2 linked regions of the Homo sapiens genome follow. The protein of the gene in region 1 purifies or fractionates together with the protein of each later gene. This does not show direct contact. Each region holds a gene or a part of one and is shown in the gene's direction. Other genes may lie near its edges.

Region 1 (3,500 bases):
CTTGGGCTTATGTATCAAAAGACTTTTAAGTTTTTGTGGCACATGAATATTTGTATCTAAAATAGTTTATCCTTAAGAGGGTTCTTAAAAATAACTCAGTATTATTTTTTCTGATTACTTTTTTTGGCTTGAAAAATATTAAAAACATTAGGTTGTGCTGCGAGTTTCATAAAGATAACTACAACACTTCTAATACAAACATTTTTTTAGTTTCAGTACAAAACGGTTCGATTCATCAAAAAGATGCTGTAAATGATGATGATTTTGAGCCATACTTAAGTAGCCAGACAAATCAGGTAAGTCTTCTGACAGTTTCAGATTTTAGGAAATTAACCTTTTATTAGTATTAGTTGATTTTTCAAATAGATTATTTAATGAGATTAACCATAACATGGATTCATTCATCTAGTGTACCTATATAGTAAGTGAGTAGTGAGTAGCAGTTGCAGATTTATGGCACAGGAGAGTTCTTCTTCAGAAAGTATAGGCACCAGAAACTAGGTTATGAAATATAGAATAAAGATTTGAAGGTGACCATTATTTGTATATATTATGGTTAGGTTTTTTGTGTGTGTGTATTGAAGGAACTTAATCTTTTAATGTCACTGCTATATCTTCATAGCTTAAGCTAATTATAAAAGGCTTAATTAGCTAGAAATTTGGGTATTTGGAGGAGGGATTAGTTACCTGAAATTGCCTGCAATTTTGGGTCAAATGTAGTGTTTTCTTTTTTTAAGACATTGCAGATTGAATTCATTGATAACTATTGAAAATTTTAACATACCTTGGTAATGTCGGTGATAGAATTAAGGAGTTTATAAACATACTTGCTTTATAAACACAGTTACTTCTGTATTGTAGACATGGACAGTTTTATCAAATCAAGTAATTGGTAACTGGTGGCTTTGAGTATTTGTGTACAAGCGTAATTCCAATTTAAACATTGAAGAACAATGCTATTAGGTATCTGTATGCCATTTCTGCATCCATTTCTGTCTGTTACTAAAAATAAGCCACTGATAGAAATAAATGAAAAAATACATTTTCAGTATTCACCAGTTTTTTTAGAGAGAACATTGTGGAATGAAACTGTTTGTTTTGCTTTAAAAAAGCAAAAAATGCTCAAGAACTTTGGGTCTTAAAATTAGTTCTGTAGTTCTTATTTATTTATTTATTTTTGAGACGGAGTCTCGCTCTGTCGCCCAGGCTGGAGTGCAGTGGTGCGATCTCAGCTCACTGCAAGCTCTGCCTCCCGGGTTCACGCCATTCTCCTGCCTCAGCCCGGAGTAGCTGGGACTACAGGCGCCCGCCACCATGCCCGGGTAATTTTTTTGTATTTTTAGTAGAGACAGGGTTTCACCATGTTAGCCAGGATGGTCTCGATCTCCTGACCTCATGATCCGCCCGCCTCGGCCTCCCAAAGTGCTGGGATTACAGGTGTGAGCCACTGGGCCCAGCCCACCTCTGTAGTTCTTTGGAATAATTTTATGATTAATTTGATTAGAAACTCAGTTCTTTGGAATAATTTTATGATTAATTTGATTAGAAACTCAGTTTTTTTTTTTTCTTTAATTTTTGAGACAGTCTTGTTTTGTTGCCCAGGCTGGAGTGCAGTGGCGCAATCTTGGCTCACTCCAACCTCTGCCTCCCAGGCTCAAGTGATTCTTCTGCCTCAACCTCCTGAATAGCTGGGATTACAGGCACATGCCACCACGCCTGGCTACTTTTTGTATTTTTTAGTAGAGGTAGAGTTTCACCATGTTGGCCAGGCTGGTCTTGAACTCCTGACCTCAAGTAATCTGCCTGCCTCAGCCTCCCAAAGTGCTGGGATTACAAGCATGAGCCACCGTGCCCAGCCTAAAATTCAGATTTTAATTGGCACGTTAAAGATGCCAGTTAGTTTGTGTGTGTAAATTTGAAGAGTAAATTGGAAAACTGAATGAAGTTTGACTTGTCTGCTTGCATATATGGAGAAAATGAAAAACGTACTCTAAAATTTTAACCTAGATTTTTGAAACTCTGAAAGAACAAGGAACCAAATCTTACTACAGAACTGAACAGTTTGTACAGTAGAGTTATAGGGAAAATTTGAACAAAAAGTAGTTCCCAATTTGTGGGATGCAGGATTATTTTTAGGATTATGGAGAGTGGTGGTTGTGTTCAACCTCATCTACCTCTTGGTTACTTCCCCTTAACCACCCCTTCCTATCTACTGAGCAACATTCCTAGCATACATGGGAGGAGAAGAAATAAATGGGAAAGAAAAAAACTTTACGATCTCAGCAAAATTACTTTTCCACGTAAAGATTATGAAAGTAGATCATTTGTTGTGAAATGTAGTGCAAGTTTTAAAATAAGCGTGATTTTACTATATTCTGGCTCACATAGTAATCTCAGTTAACGCTTATGGCAGTATGGCAGTATTTTCCAACTTTGCTGAGAAATCTTAATATTAGGAGGTGTAATAAATATTCCTTCAAAAAGATGTCCATGTTTAGATAGATTTGAGAAATTTTGGAGGCTAAACAGTTGAACTGTTTTTTTTGCTACTTGATTTCATAGTTTATAAATTATAATTGAAAATGAAGTTCTTAAGATGAAGATATAGTATAAAAAATCCTGACTTGTTCAAACTCTTATTTTTTTTTTTTTTTTGAAACGGAGTCTCGCTCTGTTGCCTAGGCTGGAGTGCAGTGGCATAATCTTGGCTCACTGCAACCTCTGTCGCCCAGGTTCAAGAAATTTTCCTGCCTCAGCCTCCCAAGTAGCTGGGATTACAGACACATGCTACCACGCCTGGCTAATTTTTATATTTTTAGGAGAGGTGAGGTTTCACCATATTGGCAAGGCTGGTCTTGAACTCCTGACGTCAAGTGATCCACCTGCCTCGGCCTCCCAAAGTGCTGGGATTACAGGCATGGAACACCGCACTCAGCCATTCAAACTCTTTTTTAAGGAATTTTAGTGGACTGTAAAAGACAGTTTTGGAATTGCTACCTGAGTAATCTTCTTGCATGTTTTGCTTGATAACAGATATTTTACAATTCTTTATTATTTGTCACAAGGACATAGAAGGGTTTCTACTGGAGGAAAAATTTTTGTCAGGAGGATTTCTGGTATTCCATAGAGGCACCTTAGTGTCTTCCTAGGGAAAACCAGCGGAGGGTGCCTGAATCCCACCAGTGTAGCAACTAGCACTGTGGTTTGCGTTTTATCTGTTCTATATATTGGAATTGTGCATAAGACTTTACTTGTAAAAAAAAAAATAGTTTTAAAAAGTGTTTGGGAAACCATTACTTTTTAAAAGATGTAAAGGCATTTACCTTAGTGAACCCAAATGAATTTTTTCAGCTGCATCATTGCAGGTTATGTTGGAGCAAAACATTTGTAAAATAGATTTGTTTTAACTCATGATATTTGGAATCAACATATTTGTATCCTGTTTGAAGAGAAGTTGTAAAGTTTGATTCCAGTAAGGCCTGTTCTACCTCTCCTTTGTG
Region 2 (3,500 bases), on another chromosome or scaffold:
AGGATTCTGACCCAGGCATTCTGGCTTGTACCCATATGGCATGCTTAACTGCAATCCATATTTTCTCTCCTGTTCATGATGGTCTTCCTCAGATCTGTAGTTTCAAAAACTTGACTTGGGAAATACATTCTTCTGACATCTAAATTTTGGGGTCAGTTTTCTAGAAAGAGTTCCAAAATAACACCCAAGTAAATGAGTTATTTTTGACATGTTATTTTAATCCATTTTTGGAAGTTATTCTTGGTGCAGATTAAATATAACTATTGAGTGGGACTTTTTAATAATTTTGACTTATTACCTATAAGTACTCATAAGAACTTAGAAGTGAGAAGTTATTCCATATTAACTCTTTTGCTTAATGGAATGTTTGCGTCTTTGTATATTTTGTCCTGTAATTTATTTTTTTTAAAGAAAGAACCTCACTGTCTTGCCCAGCCTGGACTCGAACTTCTGGGCTCAGATGATCTTCTTGCCTCCTAAGTTGCAGGAACTATAGGCCTGAGCCACTGTGTTTGGCTTTGTTCTGTAATTTTTTTTTTTTTTTTTTTTGACAGAGTTTAAGTCTGTCTTTTAGGCTGGAGTGCAGTAGTGCAATCATGGCTCATTGCAACCTCTGCCTCTCAGGCTCAAGCGATCCTCCCACCTCAGCCTCCTGAGTAGCTCGGACTACAGGTGTGCACAAGCACGCCCGACTGATTTTTAAATTTTTTGTAGAGACAGGGTTTCACTATGTTGCCCAGCCTGGTCTCGAACTCCTTGGCTCAAGTGATCCTCCTGCCTTGGCCTCCCAAATGTTGGGATTACAGGTGTGAGCCAATGTGCCCAGCCCTGTTCTATAATTTTTTAAACCACTTGGCACTGGATAGTTTTTGGGTTGAATTATGAAGTTGAAATTTAGTTAATGATTGAATGTTGGTCTCAGCCCTTTTAGTTTATTTTCATGAATAGCTATGCTTATAATGGCAGAAACAGGGTGAATAGAGTGTTGTACATGTAAAAATGAGAGAAGTTCCATCACTGATACTTTATGTTGGGGCAACTTTGACAGTTCTTTGGGTTTGTGAAATAAAGGGTGCTATAGAAGTGCACAGTGTCTTGTATAGGCCTACTCAGTACTGTAAATGTCCACCTGATTTTATTTATGAAGTTTCAGGAATAGTCCACATTTGTTATTGTTTAAGAATTGGAATCACAAATTCAATTGGATTTAAAGGTTAGAAAAAAAGTATACCTAGGCAGGGAATACAGCAGGTGAGCGGTGGGAGAGGTATTGCCTGCCTTTTCCTAACTGTCCAGCAGGATCCAGACTCTTCAGCTTCTTTGTCAGTGCCTGCAGTTGACCGTACTCATAGTTTAAGTACAGCTCCAGAGTCATAGTCTCTGTGAACGAATATAAGTATTCTCCACTTGACTCAATGGGGTAGGTTCTAGAAGACACCTATACTAGGACAGTTGATGGTTGATGAGCTTAAAACCTAATGGGAAGAGTAGCAGAACTAAAGCCAGGATTTAAAGCACGTGTGTTTATATTATTGAAATAAGACAGAGATGGCAAAACAAATTTTAAAAAGTTTTTTTTTGAAACATACCTTAAATTAATAGTGATGGTATATCATTTCCATTTACCATGCCCTGATTGGCAGATCTTTAGCCCATCATTTCATGGAGATACTTAGATGTGGACTTCGCTTTGTTATAAAAAGTTTCCAAGTTCTTCTAAGTACAGGTGGTTTGGGAAGATTGTCTTAGTAAAAAGGTGTGTGAGTAGGTCTATCAAAAGAAAACCAGTCATACTGTTACCTCCTTGCTGATTCAAGTTTTGGGGGCATCTTTTCCCACCAGGAACAGCTTATCTGCATTGAACGTCTGCTGAGGCAGGTAGCCTGCCTCTTAGATGAGCTCTGCACAGATCTTAGGGAAGACCTTAACAGTTACAGGTCATGTGGTGACCTGATCATTCACAGTCATATTGTATAAATTCCAAACAGGCCTGGAGCCTTGGCAATTGTCTGTGGTATGTGATAACACTTCTACTATGCTTAGCTTTTATTTATTTATTTATTTATTTTTGAGACAGAGTTTCACTCTTGTTGCCAAGGCTGGAGCGCAATGCATGATTTTGGTTCACTGCAACCCCCGCCTCCTGGGTTCAAGTGATTCTCTTGCCTCAGCCTCCCAAATATCTGGGATTACAGGCACGCACCACCATGCCTGGCTAAGTTTTGTATTTTTAGTAGAGATGGGGTTTCACCATGTTGGTCAGGCTGGTCTCGAACTCCCGACCTCAGGTGATCCGCCCGCCTCGGCCTCCCAAAGTGCTGGGATTACAGGCGTGAGCCACTGCGCCTGGCCTATGCTTAGCTTTTAAATTCTTAACAAGCTCTTTACCTTCCCCTTAATTAACACCAGATCAGTTGGTAACCCAAATTGTTGATTCTCTGGCCATTTATACAGAAGGCTTCCTGTTTTCCTTGCCTTTTGCTGATTCTCGTTGATTCCACAGGTATAGAATTTCTACATGTTATAATAGATAAATCTCTGATCCCGTATGCACAGATAGCATCCATTGTTTTCTTACCTCTTTGAGTTATTTACTATCTCTCCAGCTGATTCAGGAGATTTTATTCCTCGTTTTCCTGATTCCTGGGACACTTTTACTGCTTTTGCAGTTCCTGAATAGGGTGGAGTTAATAATGTTTAACACCTCAAATCAGCTACAGATACACCCAGAATAAAGAACAAGATGGCAGAAACTAACATGAGGGCATGATAGCTAACCCAGGCATTCGGGGTTGCTGTACCTTTGCTATGGAGTCTAGCTTTCATTCTGTCTGTGAAAGTTTAGAAAATTGAGTTTGGGACAGAGAAGCTTCTGCACACATTAATGCCTACTTTTCAGGGGGCCAAGTTCTCCCATTGCTATTCTGCTTTTATGAATACGGTTATTGCTATTCTGCTTTTATGAATACGGTTATTGCTATTCTGCTTTTATGATCTGGAGATTTTGACTGCATTTCTCTTGATTCCTCACCAATTCAAGAGACACAGTAAGTAATCTGAACATTTAATATGAAGCATACTTTGTGTAATTTATATTTCTCAAAGTTTGTCTCCCAGTGGTAATATATAGATTTAGCTCCCTGAACATCATCTTTCCCTCTTAAATGTTCTTGATTCCTTTTTCTTTCTGAATGTCACCCATTAGGGCACAGGTCTGATAATTTTATCAATGCCAGTAACCACTTATCCCTTACTATGCACCAGACATAGTGCTAAGTACTTTATATATATTATCTCATTTAATCCTTATAGCAATCTTGTGAGTTATTATCTCTACCTACAAATGAGGAAATTGGAGCTTAGAGAGGTGAAGTGACTTGCCCAGGGACACACAGGTAGATAGTAAGTGGTAGAGTTAGAAATTGCTCCTTCAGGCCGGGCGCGGTGACTCACGCCTGTAATCCCAGCACTTTGGGAGGCCGAGGTGGGCAGATCACGAG

Evidence for each region. Proteins that work in one complex are often made in the same cells at the same time.
Region 2: the proteins of YTHDF3 (region 1) and STK38L purify together in Homo sapiens (pull-down; one large-scale study listed by IntAct). This does not show direct contact.

What each region holds. Positions count from the first base shown.
Region 1 is NC_000008.11:63,175,121-63,178,620, forward strand, and holds part of YTHDF3 (YTH domain-containing family protein 3), read left to right. Parts: intron 1-210; coding exon 211-296; intron 297-3,500. UniProt on the Homo sapiens protein: Specifically recognizes and binds N6-methyladenosine (m6A)-containing RNAs, and regulates their stability. M6A is a modification present at internal sites of mRNAs and some non-coding RNAs and plays a role in mRNA stability and processing.
Region 2 is NC_000012.12:27,247,286-27,250,785, forward strand, and holds part of STK38L (serine/threonine-protein kinase 38-like), read left to right. Parts: intron 1-3,500. UniProt on the Homo sapiens protein: Involved in the regulation of structural processes in differentiating and mature neuronal cells.